Regions from separate parts of the Homo sapiens genome. Here regions 2, 3 and 4 are each linked to region 1. The links come from fine-mapping of genetic effects on gene expression. A gene starts in region 1. Each other region holds a variant in brackets. All regions are shown on one strand. Distances are from middle to middle.

Evidence for each region. PIP is the estimated chance that this variant, and not a neighbour inherited with it, causes the effect.
Region 2: its variant is the best candidate, but not a certain one, in a credible set for the expression of CAMKK2 in visceral fat (GTEx, PIP 0.64).
Region 3: its variant is the best candidate, but not a certain one, in a credible set for the expression of CAMKK2 in whole blood (INTERVAL, PIP 0.78).
Region 4: its variant is the best candidate, but not a certain one, in a credible set for the expression of CAMKK2 in testis (GTEx, PIP 0.81).

The regions. Positions count from the first base shown.
Region 1 is chr12:121,294,174-121,298,785 of GRCh38, reverse strand. It overlaps CAMKK2 (calcium/calmodulin dependent protein kinase kinase 2), which reads left to right and starts at 2,077. Exons shown (of 17, transcript NM_001270485.2): 1 at 2,077-2,148. RefSeq lists a silencer at 1,392-2,541.
Region 2 is chr12:121,199,816-121,205,025 of GRCh38, reverse strand. It overlaps LOC105370032 (a long non-coding RNA gene), which reads left to right. Exons shown (of 4, transcript XR_001749352.3): 2 at 1,426-1,528. Among named protein-coding and RNA genes, the nearest start is that of P2RX4, 7.7 kb to the left of the region's middle. The variant G/A (reference allele first, on the strand shown) is at 3,172.
Region 3 is chr12:121,248,072-121,253,281 of GRCh38, reverse strand. CAMKK2 (calcium/calmodulin dependent protein kinase kinase 2) reads left to right here. Exons shown (of 17, transcript NM_001270485.2): 10 at 1-9; 11 at 568-621; 12 at 3,248-3,321; 13 at 3,408-3,495; 14 at 4,548-4,676. Among named protein-coding and RNA genes, the nearest start is that of P2RX4, 41 kb to the right of the region's middle. RefSeq lists an enhancer at 4,262-4,341. The variant C/T (reference allele first, on the strand shown) is at 3,059.
Region 4 is chr12:121,266,261-121,271,470 of GRCh38, reverse strand. CAMKK2 (calcium/calmodulin dependent protein kinase kinase 2) reads left to right here. Exons shown (of 17, transcript NM_001270485.2): 3 at 526-573; 4 at 1,890-1,943; 5 at 2,782-2,833. Among named protein-coding and RNA genes, the nearest start is that of CAMKK2, 28 kb to the left of the region's middle. The variant C/T (reference allele first, on the strand shown) is at 1,953.

The DNA.
Region 1 (4,612 bases):
CTGCCTCCCGGTTCAAGTGGTTCTCGTGCTTCAGCCTCCTGAGTAGCTGGGATTACGGGCACCGCCACCACACCGGGCTAATTTTTGTATTTTTGATAGAGATGGGGTTTCACCATGCTGGCCAGGCTAGTCTCGAACTTCTGGCCTCAAGTGATCTCTCCGCCCGGGCCTCCCAAAGTGCTGGGATCATAGGCGTGAGCCACCATGCCCGGCCTCAGGTTTTTGCCATTTCCAGCAAATGCATGCACGTTGAGTAACATCAGAAGAGGTGGATGGCCGAGCATGTTGGCTCATGCCTATAATCCCAGCACTTTGGGAGGCAGAGGCAGGAGGATCACTTGAGCCCAGGAGTTTGAGACCAGCCTGGGCAACATAGGGAGAACTCTGTCTCTACAAAAAATAGAAAAAATTAGCCAGGTGTGGTGGTGTGTGCCTGTAGTCCCAGCTACTCAGGAGGCTGAGGCTGGAGGATCACCTGAGCCTGGGGAGGTCGAGGGTGCAGCGAGCCGTGATCGTGCTACTGCACTCCAGCCTGGGCAACACAGAGAGACCCTGTCTCAAAACAAACAAACAAACAAACAAACAAACAAACAAAAAAAACAAAGAAAAAAAAATGGGAGTGGGCCGGGCGCGGTGACTCACACCTGTAATCCCAGCACTTTCGGAGGCCAAGGCGGGTGGATCACGAGGTCAGGAATTCAAGATTAGCCTGGACAACATGGTGAAACCCCATCTCTACGAAAAATACAAAAATTAGCCAAGTATGGTGGCCGGCGCCTGTAATCCCAGCTACTCGGGAGACTGAGGCAGAGAACTGCTTGAACCTGGGAGGCAGAGGTTGCAGTGATCCGAGATCGCGTCACTGCACTCCAGCGTGGGCGACAGAGCGAGACTCCGTTTCAGAAAAGAAAAAAAAAAAAAAAAAAAAGGGAGTCGGGGTGGAGCTCTCATTGGCTCGTTGCATGTGAGTGTCCCTACGGCCTAGAAATACAAGAGAAGCACATCGGAACGGGCTGGAAATCCACCCAGTTAACTAGAGGGCTTTGAACCTTTTATTAACTTGGAGGTTGACTCTCCTGTCAACTCGATTCCCTTTTGGCTGTTTGGCAGGGTCAGTGAGACATCCCCTGGGTCGCTCGACCCCGTAGGACGGTTCAGGGAGCCCTCCAGGTCTTCGTTTCTCCTCTTCCCCGCACAGTGCTGTTATCCAGCTGGGGGATCCAACGCACACTTAAGGCTCCAGCAAAGTAAGTGCCAAAAAGGGGAGAATGGGAAGAATATGCTGTATTTCACAAAAAGCATCTAAGTAGCCATCTGGAAAAGCCAGAATGAACTTCAATGGTGCATCCAGGTGGGCTGGGGATGGGAGAGGAACGCCTTCCCCCAGCCTTTAGGGCCGGCCCTGAGCAAGTGGTCAGTCGGCAGGCAGCTGCGGAAGGGGGCTCCCCCGAGTCGGTGGTGGCCCAAAGTCCAGGCCGCATCCACCGCCCGGCGCCTAGCGCAGGGGCAGCAGCCGGGTCGCCACAGGAGGGGCCCCGGGTGTTCTTGCCGGCTTGGGGGAACTTTCCCAGGGTCAGCCCGGAGGCGCCCTGCAGCCCCGGCATTTGGCTAAACAAAGCAAGCGCTGCCGGCGCGGCCCGCCCGAGGGCGCCGCGGGAAGAACCTGGGCAGGTGCGCGCCGCGGGCGAGCGGGTACAAAGTTGCGGCGCCACCTCCTGCGCTCCGCGCCCCTCCAGGCTCTCCTCCCAGCCGCCTCCGATCCTCCCGGCCGGGCCTCTCTTCCCCCGTTCTTCGCCTCCTCCCTTTCTGCTCCTTGCCCTTCGCCTCTTCGCTACTTTCGTCTTTGCAGGCTCCCGCCTCCCCACCCCTCCCCGGCGCAGGGCCGAGCCGGCGGGGGCGCGCAGGGGGCGGTGCGCGGCGGGCGCGGGCGGTTCCGCTTTCGGGTTTCCCGCCGCCGTGGCCAATCCCCGCGCTGCCCGGGGCGGCGACGCGCCCAAGCCGAGCCGGGCGGCTCCTCCCGCCCCCGCCCCCCGCGCGCCCGCCGCCCGGGCGGAGGAGAGGAGCGCGCGGCCGCGCAGAGCAAGCTGAGCCGAGCCGAGCCGAGCTGGGGGCGCAGAGCGCGGGAGGCGGCGGCGGCGCGGAGCCCAGGTGAGCTGGCGGTAGCCGGGCCCGGGGCAAGGGACGCAGCCGCCGCGGCCCCGGGCGCCCGCTCCGTTTCCCTCTCGAGGCGGGGGACCGCCGCCGGCATGGCACACAAAGCCCGGAGGCTGGCCTGGGGCTCCCAACACGGAGGGACCCCACGTGCGCCTCCCCACGCCCCGCCACGTGGAGGGACACGGTCCCCGACAGCCCTTCCCCCGCGTCCTCTGGGCGCCCTGGGCCTCGGGATGGCCTCCTCGGCTGGGCCGCGCCCTGTCCGGGTGGCAGGGGCGGTCCTGGAGTTTGGAACCGGGGTCACCGGGGGCCGGGTCCGTCAGGGTTCGTGGAGGCGGCCTAGGCCCAGCCCCTCGCGTTTGACAGGTGGGGAAATCTGGAGCGTTCCGGGGAAGAGAGGACCAGCGGACTTGGAGCACCCCCACCCCGCAGCCTGCCTGTCTCGGGGCAAACCCAGGCCCTGGTGGCTTGGACACCAGGTGGCAGGACCCTAGGCCAGCAGTTGTGGGGACCTAGGGGACCTTTGGCTGTCTTCGGTCTGCCCTTTGACCACCCCCACCGCACCTCTTCTCTCAGCCGGAGCCTCACAGGCTTGGTCCTTCTGACCTAAATTCACCTCGGGGTTGCAGTATGCTGTGAATGCGGAGAGGCGTCCGCCTGACTCTCAGGGACACTGGACCCAGCCCCTCTCAGCATTGGGGCTCTGTGCCTGGGGTGCCACCCGACCCAGCCTTGAGCTTTTCCTGGCTTTCCCCCAGCCCCTGCACTGCCTAGCTGGGGAAGTGGGTGCTTTCACAGCTCTGCCAGCCTGCCCTCCTGGCCACTCTCACTTAGTGCTGGACAGGATGCAGCTCAGCCCCTCCGATCTCCCCGAGAAGGCTGAGCTTTGGGGAGGGCGTCTCAGTGCTATCAGCAAGAGAGGGATACCTGGCCTCCGGATGGGACCTGCAGCGTCCATCTCCCTACAGGCTACTTTTACCTTCCCCAGCCTGGTGTTTGGAGTCTCCACGCAGGGGATAGAAACTTCAGGTGCCCTAGAGCTGTGCTGCCATTTACCACTCCCCCTCCCCTAGCTCTGCCCCCAGAGGAGAGAGAAGAGGATGGCTTTATGTCCCCATAAGCTCCTTTGTTCCTTGGAGGAGGCGGGGGCTGCAACAAGGGGAGGGCTTTGGGGGAGTTAGCCACCCTCTTCCCTAATCACCCCACAAAAACATGCAGTTTCAGAATAAATAGTGTGCATGCCATGCAAATGCAGCTTTAGGGCAAGCCCCACATACCCCTTCCAGACTGCTGCTCATACACCCTTCCTATGGAGGAAGCAGGCATTGGTGACACACACCCTTCCTATGGAGGAAGCAGGCATTGGTGATGAGGACGCAAAACATATTTTTGTAATGAAGAGTAATAGCCATCATTTGATGAGCCCCTAACTTGGATAATAATAAGAATACTTATTTATTTATTTTGAGACGGAGTCTCTGTTGCCCAGGGTGGAGTGCAGTGGCACAATCTTGGCTCACTGCAACCTCCGCCTCCCGGGTTCAAGCGATTCTCATGCCTCAGCCTCTCCAGTAGCTGGGATTACAGGCGCCCACCACCATGCCTGGCTAATTTCTGTATTTTTAGTAGAGAAGGGGTTTCACCATGTTGGTCAGGCTGGTCTTGAACTCCTTACCTCAAGTGATCCGCCTACGTCAGTCTCCCAAGTGCTAGGATTACAGGCATGAGCTGCCACCTGGCCCTGGACAATAATAATAATAACAGTATTAAAAACTAACATCTATTGAGTTCTTGCTGCCTGCCAGATTCTGTGCTATGTGTTACATGCATTATCTCATTTAATGCCTACCAAATCCTACAACGTAGGGAATTTTAACCCCATAGTAGAGATTAGGAGACTGAGGTTTACAGAAATCCTGCAGTGTTGCTAGGATTTAGCCCCATTTTATAGAAGGGCTCAGAGAAGTTAAGTAACTTGCTCAGGGTCACACAGCCAGTGCAGGCATGTCAGGCCTTAGAACCTTTGTGCACCTGTTCAAGAGCAGAGACCCTGGCAAGGCTGCCCTGAGCTTCTTGAGGAGCCCAGGAGTTTGTTTTGTTTTGTTTATTCACTACATCAGTGTTTGCCGATGCAGCTCTATGCAGGGTCTGTAGTACTGCCCATCCTTAGATATGGCTAGTGGGCTGGTAGCTAAATATAGTCACTAATAACAATGCACTAGTTCTCATCCGGGGGTGGTCCCACCCTCCTGGCAGGGATTTGGGAAAGTGTGGGGGCGACTTTTGGTTGTCAAAATGATGCTAAGCACTCCTGGCTTTTAGTGGGCGGGAGTCAGGGATGCCTACTAAAGTGTCCTGTAGGCAGGCCAGGGCCACGACATAAAGAATCACCCTCCCCTGGCTGGGCGTGGTGGCTCACGCTTGTAATCCCAGCACTTTGGGAGGCCGAGGCAGGAGG
Region 2 (5,210 bases), 94 kb after region 1:
AATCTAAATGTCCATCAACTAATGAACACATAAACACAATGTGGTCCATCCATACAATGGAACATGATTCAGCCACAGGAAGGAAGCACTGACACGCGCCACACCACGGATGACCCTTGAAAACACCACGCTGAGTGAGAGGAGCCAGATGCCACAGGGCACTTATCGTATGATTCTGTGTATAGGAAATGTCTGGAATAGGCAAATCCATAGAAACTGAAAGTAGAGGCCGGGTGTGGTGGCTCACGCCTGTAATCCCAGCACTTTGGGAGGCTGAGGCGTGCATATCACCTGAGGTCAGGAGTTTGAGACCAGCCTGACCAACATAGAGAAACCCCATCTCTACTAAAAATACAAAATTAGCTGGGCATGGTGGTGCACGCCTGTAATCCCAGCTACTCAGGAGGCTGAGGCAGGAAAATCGCTTGAACCTGGGAGGCGGAGGTTGCGGTGAGCTGAGATCGCGCCATTGGACTCCAGCCTGGGCGACAAGGGCAAAACTCCGTCTCAAAACAAAACAAAACAAAACAAAACTGATAGTAGATTAGTGGTTGCCAGGGGCTGGGGGAAAGAAAGGATGGAAAGTGGCTGCTGGTGAGTACAAGGTTTCCATTTAGGGTGATGAAAATGTGCTGGAAAAGAAAGTGGTGATAGTTGCGGAACCTGTGAATATACTAAAAGCCGCTGAATTGTACATTTAAAAAGAGTAAATTTTATGGTATGTGAGTTATGTCTCAGTAATAATTCCAGTAAACAGGGAGTAAACAACCAAGGTCTCAAGAAAAGCAAAGTATATACCACGAATCCATGGGGCCAGACGTCATATTCCTTCTTCACAGGGGAGCATCTCAGGCCCTCACACCAAGCTTACCTTTTTTTTTTCCTTTTTGAGACAGGGTCTCCCTGTGTCACCTGGACTGGAATGCAGTGGCATGATCTCGGCTCAGTGCAACCTCCGCCTCCTGGGTTCGAGCAATCCTCCCACCTCAGCCTCCCAAGTAGCTAAGACTACATGCACACGCCACCATGCCCAGCTAATTTTTTGTATTTTTGGTAGAGATGGGGTTTCACCAGGTTGCCCAGGCTGGTCTTGAACTCCTGAGTTCAAGCGATCCATCTGCCTCGGCCTCCCAAAGCGTGGGGTTACAGTCGTGAGCCACCGCGCCCGGCCTCTTTTTAGTTCAGATGCGATTGGAGCAGTTTCGATTTTCTGGTTCCTTTGTTGCTGGTGAAGCCAGTTCATCAGTACCTGCTTTCTCTAGGCTGTCATTTCTCGCAGAGGTGGTGCAGCAGCTGTTTTTATACTATGTGACCTTATCTTCCTGGCCACAGCTGACTGGACCACAGGTGGGAAACTGACCCAGCCGGGCCAGTCTCTCCTCTGGCTTTGGCATTGGGATAGTGACAACTCTTTCTTCTCTGCAGGTGACTGGAACTGATTTGACATAACCATCGTATGCATGGAGAAGCTGAGAACAGTAATCTGCAGAAGCAAAAGTATGAAACAGCCGGGCAAAGATGCACAGAGGTGAGAGAGACGAAGGGAACGGCCTCTGGTTTCTGTTGAGCTTCCACTTCTTGGTTCTGCCTCCTCCCCCCGTTCACCTTTACCTTTGAGATACCCCCATAATCTCATAATAAGTGTTCATTTTTTACTTAACCTAGTAGCCTTCTGAAACTTGGAATTGAAAAGACTATGTCTATAGCCCTAGGATCTAACAGATAAAAAATGTATTATGTCACCAGTAACGTAGGTGGTAAAACAAACATTTGTTTGAATGCAGCAAATTAGAAGGAGGTGGGACGCGTTGCCCCAGGCCACCAATACTAAGAGCAGCGATACACAAATAGCCCATAAAAAAGAAATGTTTCTATAAAAAGCAGAGCCAAGAACTCCGAAAAGCTCATCAGTCTGGGGCCATTTAGTTTAGAGACCTCAGTGTGCCTTAGGGTGTCATTTGGTTATGGTTATGTAAGACTGACATTTGTTACAATGGCCTTGAGCCGCAAAAGGCCAGTCAGAAGAGACAGTGTCATTTGTTTAGGAGAATCTACAATGAAAAAATGTTTAAATTAAATGTTTAGGCATTTAAAGATGTAAGACTCGCTTATCTGGCACATAGACATTGTGAAATACGTCATTGTATAACAGAATGACAGATACGTGTGGCACACAGTATAATTATATATACTTCCAGAAACAGAACGTCTAAATAAAGAACAAGTTGATAGCAGAAGTGAGGAATAAATTATTTTATAATTTTGCTGTTGCTTTCCCTGGGTAGTGCTTGAGACTGAATCTATTGTGGAACAACAACAACAAAAAAAACAAAAAGCAAAAAAACAGAACAGAAAAACCCTGACTCTTATCTAACAGGCCATATGTTGATCACAGATAATCCTCTCAACCCCATCAGACCCAACGTCCTTTTCGTTTTTTTGACACAGGGTCTCTCTCTGTTGCCCAGGCTGGTGTGCAGTGGCGGGATGTCAGCTCACTGCAACCTCCGCCTCCCAGGTTCAAGCAATTCTCCTGCCTCAGCCTCCCAAGTAGTAGCTGGGATTACAGGCACCCACCACCATGCCCTGCTAATTTTTGTATTTTTAGTAAAGACAGGGTTTCACCCTGTTGATCAGGCTGGTCTCAAACTCCTGACCTCAGATGATCCACCCACCTTGGCCTCCCAAATTGCTGGGATTACAGGCGTGAGCCACCATGCCGGCCACTTGTATTATGGTTTTAAAGTGTAAGACTTCTTTATATATTCTAGATACAAATTCCATATCAGATATATGATCTATAGATGTTTTCTCCCATTCAGTGGGTGGGAGGAATTACAGGTTGTTGAAATGGAGGAGATGGGGAAGGATGATATTCCTGCAGATGAGCTGGACATATTCTAATACCTGGATCTTGACATCTTAGCACATTTGACATTCGGTCTTTAGGCTGTAAAAGACCTCAGAGATCACACCCTTTGATAGGCAGCGTAGAATAAAAGGTGGATGGGGAATAACCTGTGACTGCAAGAGGCAGTGTGGGGGAATTGTCTGATACTGCTGAAAACAAGAGGCAGCCCCAAATTCATCAATCCTGTATGTGATTTTCACAACAAATTTTTGTTTGTTTCTTTTTAAATTTCACAATGAAATTTCATGTCACTGTGCCAC[G/A]AAGAAAAAATTGTAATATATAGAATGGAAATAATGTAAAATCTATATATTTTATTTCGTTTTACTTGGTTGAAAATGTGTAACATTTATGATTTTTTTTTTAGTTTTTAACTTTTTTTATTTTTATTTTTATTTTTTGAGACGGAATTTCGCTCTTGTTGCCCAGGCTGGAGTGCAATGGTGCGATCTTGGCTCACCGCAACCTCTGCCTCCCAGGTTCAGGCAATCCTCCTGCCTCAGCCTCCCAAGTAGCTGGGATTACAGGCATGCACCACCACGCTTGGCTAATTTTGTATTTTTAGTAGAGATGGGGTTTCTCCATGTTGGTCAGGCTGGTCTCGAACTCCCGACCTCAGGTGATCTGCCCACCTGGGCCTCCCAAAGTGCTAGGATTACAGGCGTGAGCCACTGTGCCCCGCCCGTTTTTTAAAATTCTTAAAAAAAAAAAAAAAAAGAAAGAAATGGGGTCTCACTATGTTGCCCAGGCTGATGTCAAACTCCTGGCCTGAAGCAATTCTCCCAGCTCTGCTTCCCAAAGTGCTGGGATTACAGACATAACCCAGTGAGTCCAGCAAGGCAAAACTATTGAAAAGCTTTTTTATTTTTTATTTATTTATTTTTTTAGAGACAGAGTGTTGCTCTGTCCCCCAGGCTGGAGTGCAATGGCGTGATCTTGGCTCACTGCAACCTCCATCTCCTGGGTTCAAGCAATTCTCCTGCCTCAGCCTCCCAAGTAGCTGGGATTATAGGCGCCCACCACCACACCTGGCTAATTTTTTGTATTTTTAGTAGAGACGGGGTTTCCCCATGTTGGCCAGGCTGGTCTCGAACTCCTGACCTCAGGTGAACCACCCGCCTTGGCCTCCCAAAGTGCTGGGTTTATAGGTGTGAGCCACTGCGCCCGGCTGAATGAGGCTCCATCTCAAGATAAAATAAAATAAAATAATGATAGTATGCTGTGGAAAGATATTTGAGATAATTAAATGGAAAAATATAACAGGGCAATATGTGTACTGGGTCTTCAAATTTTTGTGTTTATAGAAAAAAGTGTGGCAGATCATAAATTAAAATCTTAACTGGTTTTTCTGGGAAGGGTGAAACTATAGATGATTTTTGCTCTGCATACTTATCTGCATTTTTAAAAATGTCTACTCTGAAGTTGATTACTTTTCTTAAGAGAAGGCCGGGCACGGTGGCTCACACCTGTAATCCCAGCACTTTGGGAGGCCAAGGTGGGCCGATCACGAGGTCAAGAGATCGAGACCAGCCTGGCCAACATGGTGAAACCCCGCCTCTACTAAAAATACAAAAATTAGCTGGGTGTGGTGGCGGGTGCCTCTAGTACCAGCTACTTTGGAGGCTGAGGCAGGAGACTCGCTTGAACCCGGGAGGCGGAGGTTGCAGTGAGCCGAGATTGTGCCGCTGCACTCCAGCCTGGGTGATAGAGCGAAACTCCATTTCAGAAAAAAAGAAAAGAAAAGAAAAGAAAAACAATTTTAAAGCTACTCCTAAAAATGTTTATGAAGTATATTTAATTATATGGAGGAAATGCTTATGCTGTAATGTTAAGTGAGGAAAAAGGCAAGGCAAGATACAAAACAGCGTGTGTTAGAATCTAAATTATACACATCAAAAGAAGAGAAGCATCTTGCTTCATCCAGGGAGAATGATCTTTTTTTTTTTTTTGATAGAGATGGAGTCTCACTGTTTTACCCAGCCTGGTCTTGATTCCTGGGCTCAAGCAAACCTCCTGCCTTGGCCTTCCAAAGTGTTGGGATTACAGGTGTGAGCCACCGCGCCTGACCAGAATGATTCTTTGAATCAATCTCTTTTCTTCCCTAGTATTTGTCTTTAAAGTGCTAGATTAGGCCAGGCGCGGTGGCTCACGCCTGTAATCTCAGCACTTTGGGAGGCCAAGGTGGGCAGATCATGAGGTCAGGAGTTCAAGACCAGCCTGGCCAACATAGGGAAACCCTATCTCTACTAAAAATAGAAAAATTAGCCAGGCATGGTGGCATGCACCTGTAGTCCCAGCTACT
Region 3 (5,210 bases), 46 kb after region 1:
TCTGGGAAGGTAAGCTTGGGCCTGCCTCAGCCACAGAGTTCTGCCTGTGTTAGTGTCTTCTGGATTGTAAGCAGCAGAAACCCAACGCACACAGGCTTAAACAGTGAATCCCCTGGATCAAGATACTGAGGGGTAGGCTTCAGGCTTGGCTAGATCCAGGGACTCAAACAGAAACCATCTCCCGCCATCTTTCAGTTGTTTTTCTTATTTGGTTTCCTCCACAGGTGGGTCAGGCACCCAGGGACCAGGTTACTTTCTATCATTTGCCAACCTCAGTGGCAAGAGCATTCCTCATTCTGAATAGTGCCTGTGAAAACCCTGGGGTTGGCTCTGATTGGCCCAACATGGGTCATGTGCCCATGCTTGAACCAATCACTGTGGCTGGGGGTAGTGGTGCTCTCATTGGCCTGGCCTGGATCCTGTGCCTGCCCCAGAGCCTAGGAGACAAGATTGGTCCCGCCCCAACTCCAAGGGCTGAAAGTCAAGAGGTGGTTCCCCAAAGGAAAACTGGAGGATTGGAGGCTGGACCACCCCTTATGCCCTCACACTAAGCTCTTTTTCTTGCAGGCCTTGGATGTTTGGGCCATGGGTGTGACACTATACTGCTTTGTCTTTGGCCAGGTAAGAGGGCGGGGTGTCTGTCCCCTCAGTACTGCTGGGTGGCCCCTGGGTTAATAGTCACCCTTGCGGGGAGACAGTACTTACTTATTTAAGAGTTATTTTAGGCTGGGCATGGTGGCTCACGCCTGTAAACCCAGCACTTTGGGAGGCTGAGGCAGAGGTTAGGAGTTGGAGACCAGCTTGGCCAACATGGTGAAACCCCGTCTTTACTAAAAATACAAAAAATTAGCCAGGCGTGATGGCGCATGCCTATAGTCCCAGCTACTCTGGAGGCTGAAGCAGGAGAATCGCCTGAACCCAGGAGGCGGAGCTTGCAGTGAGCTGAGATTGCACCATTGTATTCCAGCCTGGGCAACAAGAGCGAGACTCCGTCTCAAAAAATAAAATAAGAGAAGAGTTATTTTATTTCTACACCTAGATCTCAATGTGAAAAAGGATGCCTTCCTAAATATACATGTGTATGTATGTCATGATCATATCTATGAAAAAATGATCTGTTAAAACAGAAGGATTGGCAGAGGCTCTAGAGTTTATAAATAGTTGATAAATTTAGGGCAAGGACAGCAGTTCTGCCACCTCTCCCATTTCTGAGCCCAAGGCAGACATCACTAATCAATAACTGTGCTCGTTCCTCCTGAGCCTGATACTGCTCTGATGTTCTTTCCGTCAGGGTATTCCTAGAAGCTTTTGTCAGAGGGGTAGCATTGGAATGGAAGTTAAAAGCTGTTTACCATTATTGATTTAGGGAGTGCTGTTTGGGCTTTTCTGTTGTTGTTATTTTGTTATTATTGATATCTGGGGGCTTCTCTCTCTATTTTTTTTTTTTTTTTTTTTGAGATGGAGTCTTGCTCTGTCACCCAGGCTGGAGTGTAGTGGTGCGATCTCGGCTCACTGCAACCTCCGCCTCCCGGGTTCAAGCCATTCTCCTGCCTCAGCCTCCTGAGTAGCTGGGACTACAGATGCCAGCCACCACACCCGGCTAATTTTTGTATTTTTGTAGAGATAGTGTTTTGCCATGTTGGCCAGACTGGTTTCAAACTCCTGACCTCAAATGATCTGCCAGCCTGGGCCTCCCAGAGTGCTGGGATTTGGGATTACAGGTGTGAGCCACCACGCCTGGCCTTCTCGTTTTAACTCTGAAGTTCAGTTTGATTATGTGAGCAATAAAAACGTAGATTTTTCCCTTTCCTGAGCTTGTGTTCTTATTGAGGAAAGCCTAAGAAACTGGTCCCATGAAGAAGTAAAGGAGTTTATACCGATTGCCTCTCAATATTTGATTAGAAAATTTTTCAATCATGTAGCAAAGCTGGAAGAAGTGTCCAGTGAACACCCACATACCCACCACCTGGATTCTACTATATTAACCTTTTCCTGTGCTTGTCTGTTCATTCCTTACCCATCCCTCAGTCCATCTGGTTTCTTAATGTATTTCAGAGTAAGTTACCACCATCTCCACTCTTCCTTCCAAATGCCTTAGAAGGCAGTGATTAGGTAGAGCTCAAGTCACTGCTCTTAATGAAATCGTTTTCCTTAGACGGGTGGTTCAGGTACCTCTCTGCCACCTTCTCCAACATTTTCAGTGTCCCGTGTAAGGATTCCTTTTCCAGCACACATGACCAAGCTGCTCTTGAGTCAGGCCCTCAGCTGGGTGAAAGCATCGATTTGTCACCCAGAAGGTGGTGCAAAAATAGGCTTCAGAGTCAGCTGAATCTAGGCTTAAATCCCTCTTCGTACTTCCTGGGACACATTATTTCTCTGAACTTCTGTTTTTCTCTTCTGTAAAATGAGAATACTACTTATTATTTCTGATGACTTCTGAGAGGATTGACAGAAATAATTCAAGTATCCATTAATTCAGCAGATATTTATTGAGCCCTTACTTTGTGCAGGAACGCTCCTAGGCACGGAGAGTCCGCAGTGAGCAAGACAGCCAGAAATCCCTGCCTTCTTGGAGCTAACGTTCCCGTGGGAGGGGTTAAACAATAAACAAATCTGTACGATAACGTCAGGGATAAGTGCTACGATGAGGAGTGATGTGGGCGGTGGCGGCATTGGGGGTTGTCTGTTTTAGACAGGGCTTCAGGAAGTCCTCCCTGAGAAGGTGAGCTTTAGTCAGACACCTGCATGGTGGGAGAGACCAAGCCACGTAGATGTTGGTGAGAAGAACATTCCAGGGACGGGGAACAGTGAATGAAAACCTCAGGGCAGGGCGTGGCGCGATCCAGGCTAAGCCCTTGAAAATCACTGCTGCTGCCACAAATAACACAAAGTCTTTTGTGTTATTCTTGTTGTTCCTGTTGTTCACCTGGCAAGTAGGTGACGAGCAGTGTTTGCTTTGGTGTAAGTAGGTAAACTGAGGCCCAGCTACAGAGGGAGCCTGCAGTGTGCTTGGGAAAGGCTCTAGCCCTTCGAGAGGGCCATTCCTGGCTCTGCCCTG[C/T]GTCGGCCAGGCCCCACACCCCTGTGTCTTGGCCATTCTCGGGGAGAATGGGAACTGCTTGCCCCCTAGCCTGGGCCGCAATTGTTGATTTCTCTGCTGTATCCTATGTGGAGTGGCACAGCACAGGTGGCCCTCGAAGGGCAGATGTGGCCGCCATTGACTGCCACTCTGTCCCTGGCCTCTTTGCAGTGCCCATTCATGGACGAGCGGATCATGTGTTTACACAGTAAGATCAAGAGTCAGGCCCTGGAATTTCCAGACCAGTGAGTATCTCCCGCCGTCCCGCATCTCTCCTGTCCGAGTTCTTGGCGGTCCCGTGTCTGCCACCCTGACGCCTCTCCATCCCCAGGCCCGACATAGCTGAGGACTTGAAGGACCTGATCACCCGTATGCTGGACAAGAACCCCGAGTCGAGGATCGTGGTGCCGGAAATCAAGGTACCCTTGGCTCAGCCTGTGCCCCGTGCTCGGAATTGTTTGGCTCAGCCATGCCTCAGCCAGACCCCACACCCTTGTGTCCACAGCACCACACCCTCCTTGGCACCGCTGTTCTCCTATGCCCCAGGGCCTCTGAGCTGCTGGGGGCTGTTGAGGGCTGGGTAGGAAGATTTGGGCATTGTGTGCACTGTGACTGTGGGAGTGGGATCTATGACCCGCCAGCCTGCACTTGCTCTGATTGGCGTGGGCTGATGGGATCCACCCTCTGCAGACCGGCATGGGGCCTCCGTGCTCCACACCCTATTCCCAGAGCTCAGGTCCTTTCCAAAGGCCCGTCCCTTTGAGAAACTGCAGTGAGGATGGGAGGAAATTAATGAGCAATTCGACCTCCCCAGCCTGCTGAATCCCACCCTCTTGCAGAAAGCACTTTTAGGAAAGTGTATTCCCCTACACATCTCCACTAATGCCACACACATATATCTGGCCCTCTAGGAAATCTAGAGATTTGCCCTGGGACTTCCTAGGCAGCTAGCTAACTGGCATTTGAAGGTCTTAACAGAAGGCAGCCCAAAAAATCATGGATTGGGGCTTGGACCCAAGGGGGCAGACCCCTGCCTGGGTCCTCTCCTGATCCTGTCCTGCCAGCTGGTCCCACCATGCCTCCAAGCCTCTCCTGCTGTGAGATGGGGAGAATGCTGCCTGCTGTGCACTGAGCCTCCCAGGTGTCAGGGATTGTGGCTGAGGAGTGATGGATGCTCCTTGGGCAGCCAGGCAAGGCAGATGCCAAATTCCCATCACTTCGGCCAAGACCCGGGGCCGGATGGAGAATCGCCCCACTTCCATTTCAGCCTTGTAGCTCCTCCCGTCCTGTCTCTCCGTCTTCATGTTTCCGCCCCTTTGCTCACCCCTGCCCTCTGCTCGCCAGCTGTTTTGCATGCCTGACCACAGGCCCTTGCCTCTCCGTCCTGCATGCCCTTGTGGCTCCGCTCGCTGGCAGGGCCCCCCGGTAGCCAGCCACACCTGCCCCTCACCCCTCCTGTCGTTCGTTGAAGCTGCACCCCTGGGTCACGAGGCATGGGGCGGAGCCGTTGCCGTCGGAGGATGAGAACTGCACGCTGGTCGAAGTGACTGAAGAGGAGGTCGAGAACTCAGTCAAACACATTCCCAGCTTGGCAACCGTGGTAAGGTGGATGGACCCCTGACCCAGAGCAGGGACCCAGGAGCCTGAGGTGGGGCCTGGCCAGGACAGGCCGGACACAGGCGGGTGCCCGGGAGTCAGATGTCCGGGGGCCACCCCTAATCCACAGCTGCTGGCCTCTGGGCCTTGGTCATGTATCAGGCCAGGTGACCCCTGCATCTTCTGAGCCAGGTTCCATGTTACCATAGGAAGGGGAAGATTATCCTTCTGGAATTCCTGCTTTCAGAGCTCATCAGGGGAGAGGAACTAGGAGAAGTTCCAGGCAGGGGCAAGGGTTGGGAGCCGGAGCCCAGGTCTCTAAGCCAGGATTCCCGCCTAGCTGGAATTTTAGGCTCCAGGGTGGATGGCGTAGCATATCTCACGTCTGCTGTGTGGGCAGCCACCAGGGGTAGGGGCAGGGACTTCCACGCACACACTCAGAAAGTTCTGCCCATCTCCTGAGAGTGAGAATTGCTTAGGAGCAAGTAGGTCCCCTTTTATGGCCTTGAATTTGGATCCTGACCCAGGAAGAAGGAGC
Region 4 (5,210 bases), 28 kb after region 1:
GGTTACATTTTGACAAAGTACAACAAGCAAAATCAGCGTTGTTAGAAGTCAAGAGAGTGGCCACCTGGGGGAGGGCAGAGGTGCGAGTGGCTTCTGGGAGCTGGGGATGTTCTCTTTCTTGATTTGGGTTCTGGTTACCTGTATGTGTTTAATTTGGAGAAATGTATCTAGTTGCAAACTTTTTTTTTTTTTTTTTTGAGACACAGTTTTACTCTTTTGCCCAGGCTGGAGTGCAATGGTGCAATCTCCGCTCAAGCAACCTCCACCTCCTGGGCTCACGCGATTCTCGTGCCTCAGCCTCCTGAGTAGCTGGGATTACAGGTGCCCACCACCACGCCTGGCTAATTTTTATATTATTAATAGAGATGGGATTTCACCATGTTGGCCAGGCTGGTCTGGAACTCCTGAACTCAAGTGATCCTCCCACCTTGGTCTCCTGAAGGGCTTGTAGGTGTGAGCCACCGTGCCTGGCCTCTAGTTGCAAACTTAAAATTCATTTTGCACGTGTCTCTCCTTACTCTCTAGGACTGTGTGCAGCTGAATCAGTATACCCTGAAGGATGAAATTGGAAAGGTAAATATCCCTGGGGCTAGGCTGGCTTTCTGCATTCACCAGGGGCGTTCAGATACTGTGGAGGGAACGGGGTAAAGCTGGGAGCAGGAGAGGAGTCTTTGAAGGCGAGGTTGGTGGAGAGGGTTTTGTCATTAATGATCTAGGTTTTTGGTTTAGTTTTGTTTTCTTGTATCTTAAAATTAAATATGTTTCTGCAGAAGCTCAGAAAGCTTCCAACGAAATTCCATATCGCCTTGGTGATAGTTACATCCCCAATACATTTGGGGTTTTGTTTCACCCCGAGGTACTCTGACATCTAGTTTTGCTTTTGTTTTAGCTAATGGGGGGTATCATCACCATGGTCAAAACTCCAAATGCCAGTAGAAAACAAGTAAGTAATATAAAGGAGTGAGGCATGCCAGCTGTAAGGTAGTAGGGAGTGGTAAGGACAGTGGCAAACCATTAACATATGGAAATGAGGGCTACATATAGCTAGATCTTTCCATTTTTTCAAAATAAACTAGGAATCTTGATTTTTTTTTTTTTTTTTAGACAGGGTGTTGCTCTATCACCAAGGCTGGAGCGCAGTGGCGCAATCTCGGCTCACTGCAACCTCTGCCTCCTAGGCTCAAGCGATTCTCCTGCCTCAGCCTCCCAAGTAGTTGGGAGTACAGGTGTGCACCACCACACCTGGCTAATTTTTGTAATTTTTGTAGAGACAGGGTTTCACTATGTTGCCCAGGCTGTTCTCAAACCTGACCTCAAGTGATCTGCCCGCCTCGGCCTCCCAAAGTGCTGGGATTACAGGTGTAAGCCACCTTGCCTGGCAAGGAATATAGATTTCTATATCAGACCTTTCTGTTTTTTTTTGAGACTGAATTTCACTGTGTCGCCCAGGCTGGAGTACAGTGCCGAAATCTTGGCTCACTGCAGCCTCTGCTTTCGGGTTTAAGTGATTCTCAAGCCTCAGCCCCCTGAGTAGCTGGGATTACAGGTGCCTGCTACCATGCCCCGGCTAATTTTTGTATTTTTAGTAGAGACGCGGTTTCATCATGTTGGCCAGGCTGGTCTCAAACTCCTTAACTCAAGTGATCCGCCTGCCTCGGCCTCCCAAAGTATTGGGATTACAGGTATGAGCCACTGCGCTCCGCCCAGATCTTTCTGTTTTTAAATCTTGGCAACTAATCCAAACTTTGTAAAAACCTGGGCTCCAACAAAATACAGTTGCGGGACAGATTTGACCAATGGGCTGCCGGTTTGCAACGTCTGTATTAGGGTTCTCATTTTGCAGATCTTAACTTCTGGATAGTATGTCATGGGCATCTCCCTTTATCCAGGGCTCCTATGGTGTCGTCAAGTTGGCCTACAATGAAAATGACAATACCTACTATGTGAGTATC[C/T]GCATTCTCCTCCCTGCCCCCATCCTTATCCACAGAAGAGCCTCCTTTCCAGCACTCAGCTTCCTGGAAAGTTTTCCTAGCTGTTGTCTCATTTTATTCTTAGGTCATGTTTATTTTGTGCCTTAGGAAGGAAGTGGTATGCCCATTTTACAGATAGGAAAATGGGGAGGTGAGGGGATTGGCCCAGAAAAAGTTACTCATTCAGCAAAAGGCTTTTATGCCCTTCCTCTGAGCTGTCATCTCTGCATCCTCCATAGTATTGAGAACAAGGCAGCAGTGAGACAGGTGTCTGTGTGGGTGGCTTTGGAGTCAGTCCAGCGTAGTTTTGAACCTGAATCTATCGTGTGCCAACCATGTGACCTTGACAAGTGATATTTCTCCATGTGTAAAACAGCTGAGCCTCAGTTTCCCCATGTGTAAAACAGCTGAGCCTCAGTTTCCCCATGTGTAAAACAGCTGAGCCTCAGTTTCCCCGTGTGTAAAACAACCAGTCCTGCCCCTCCTTTGCCCATTGCTCCAGCTCACTTGTGTTTTGATTCGATGGCAGCAAGTCCTGAGGCTCGTGGTTTCCCAGCTGAGAGAGGCGACCGTGAGCCTCAGGAACACCTCAGAGCTGGAGGCACCCCAGGAGTCCAGCCTCCCTACAACCCCATGGCTGCTTGACCCTCTCTGGTAATGAGGGGCTCACTCTGTTGACCTGAGCCTGCCAGGGGGCCAGGAGCTTGGGCCGGCTTTGGAGTAGAGGAACCCCGACTGCGCCCTCCTTCCCCTTTTCCTCCCTGCTTTAAACAGGACCTGGCTAAAGGTGCTGTCCTTCATTTTCCTGCAGGCAATGAAGGTGCTGTCCAAAAAGAAGCTGATCCGGCAGGCCGGCTTTCCACGTGAGTTTGGCGGGCCTTTGTTGTTAGGTACAGGGGCTGGGACAAGACAGGGCAGAGCCCCCTGAATGGGAACCATTGCACTGGGCATGGTGCCACATGCCTGTAGTTCCAGCTACTTGGGAGGCTGAGGCACAAGAATTGCTTGAACCTGGGAGGAGGAGTTTGCAGTGAGCCAAGATCGCACCACTGCACTCCAGCCTGGGTGACAGAGCAAGACTCTGTCTCAAAAAATAATAAAATAAAAATATTTATTAAAGTTATATAGGTATCAAGTCAAAAAATCCAATAGAGGAAAACACTGGCAATTCCTCAAAAAGTTAAACATGGTGTTACCGTATGACTCAGTAATTTCACTCCTACTTATATACCCAAGAGAACAGGACATCCGTGTTCACCTAGGAGCTTGTATGTGAATGTTCATAGCAGGTTTAGCCACAATAACTAAAAAGTGGAAACAGCACACACGGCTTCAGAGAATGAATAGAGTATATATGCATCCAGTGGAATATTCATCCATTAAAAGTAATATGAATAGAGTATATATATATATATATGCATCCAATGGAATATTATTCAGCCATGAAAAGTAATGAAGTACCAATTCATGCCCCAACACAGAGGGGTCTTGAAGACATTATGCTAAGTGAAAGAAGCCTAACACAAAAGCTCACATATTATGTGATTCTGTTTATGTGAAATACCCAGAATAGGCCAATCCATAGGAACAAAAGTAGATTTGTGATTGCTGGGGGCTCTGGGGAACAGGGGAAATGAGGGGTGAATGCTGATAGATATCAGATATGTATATAGATATTTAGGGAGGCATTGAAAATATTCTGCAGTTGGCCGGGCACGGTGGCTCACACCTGTAATCCCAGCACTCTGGGAGGCCGAGGCGAGTGGATCACTTGAGGTCAGGAGTTCAAGACCAGCCAGGCCCAACATGGTGAAGCCCTATCTTTACTAAAAATAGAAAAACTAGCTGAGCGTAGTGGTGTGTGCCTGTAATCCCAGCTACTCGGGAGGCTGAGGCAGGAGAATTGCATGAACCAAGGAGGTGGAGGTTGCAGTGAGCCGAGATCATGCCACTGCACTCCAGCCTGGGTGACAGAGCAAGACTCCATCTCAAAAAAAGAAAAAAAAATATGCAATAGATAATGGTGATGGTTGCACAACCTTGTCAGCACTAAAAACCATTAAAATACACATTTTAAAATGGTAAATTTAGCAGGGCACGGTGGCTCATGCCTATAATCCTAGCACTTTGGGAGGCCAAGGTGGGTGGATCACGAGGTCAGGAGTTTGAGATCATTCTGGCCAATATGGTGAAACCCTGCATCTACTAAAAAAATACAAAAATTAGCCAGGCATGGTGGCATGCATCTGTAAATCCCTGGCTACTCGAGAGGCTGAGGCAGGAGAATCGCTGGAACCCAGGAGGCGGAGGTTGGAGTGAGCTGAGATTGCGCCACTGCACTCCAGCCTGGACGACAGACTGAGACTCCATCTCTCAAAAAAAAAAAAAAAAAAAAAAGATAAATTAAAAAAATTTAAATACCACGAGGTATTTGAATTATATCTACCAAAAAAAAAAAAAAAAAAAAAAAAAAAAAAAGGCCAGAGCACAGGAGGGCTCATCATGGAGACCAGTTTCTTGCTGACCTCTTTCCTTCTCCTATAGGCAGCCTTGGCTTTTAGCACTTTTAGTTGCTGGTAGCTCCTGTGTGTGGTCAGATGATAGGCTGCAGGTGAGAGTATCAGAGGCTGCTTCAACATAAGCTCCCTGCCAGCATTGCTGGGCAAAATGTCAGCTTGGGCCAAAAAGAGAAATTAGATAAGAACAAACAGCCAGGCATGGTGGCTCATGCCTGTAATCCCAGCACTTTGGGAGGCCGAGGCGGGTGGATCACGAGGTCAGGAGTTCAAGATCAGCCTGGTCAAGATGGTGAAACCCTGTCTCTACTAAATATACAAAAAAGTAGCCAGGCATGGTGGGTGCCTGTAATCCCAGCTACTCGGGAGGCTGAGGCAGAGAATTGCTTGAACCTGGGAAGCAGAGGTTACACTGAGCCGAGATCGCGCCACTGCACTCCAGCCTAGGCGACAGAGCGAGACTCCATCTCAAAAAAAAAAAAAAACCCATCCTAACAGTAGGACCCTGGTTTATCCTGCTTATCCAAACGCTGCACCAGGTCATAATCCTCACGTCACTATTATCAATTTTTGACATCTGCTTCTGGCTTCTTCCAGTGACAATAGAGGATTTCGCTTGCTTAAACACTCCTTCTTACCTCTTGTCTTAACAAAATAACAAATGGTGTCCTGTAACAACGTACGAGAGACTGGGTGGCTTAACCTAACCGATATTTATTTCTCA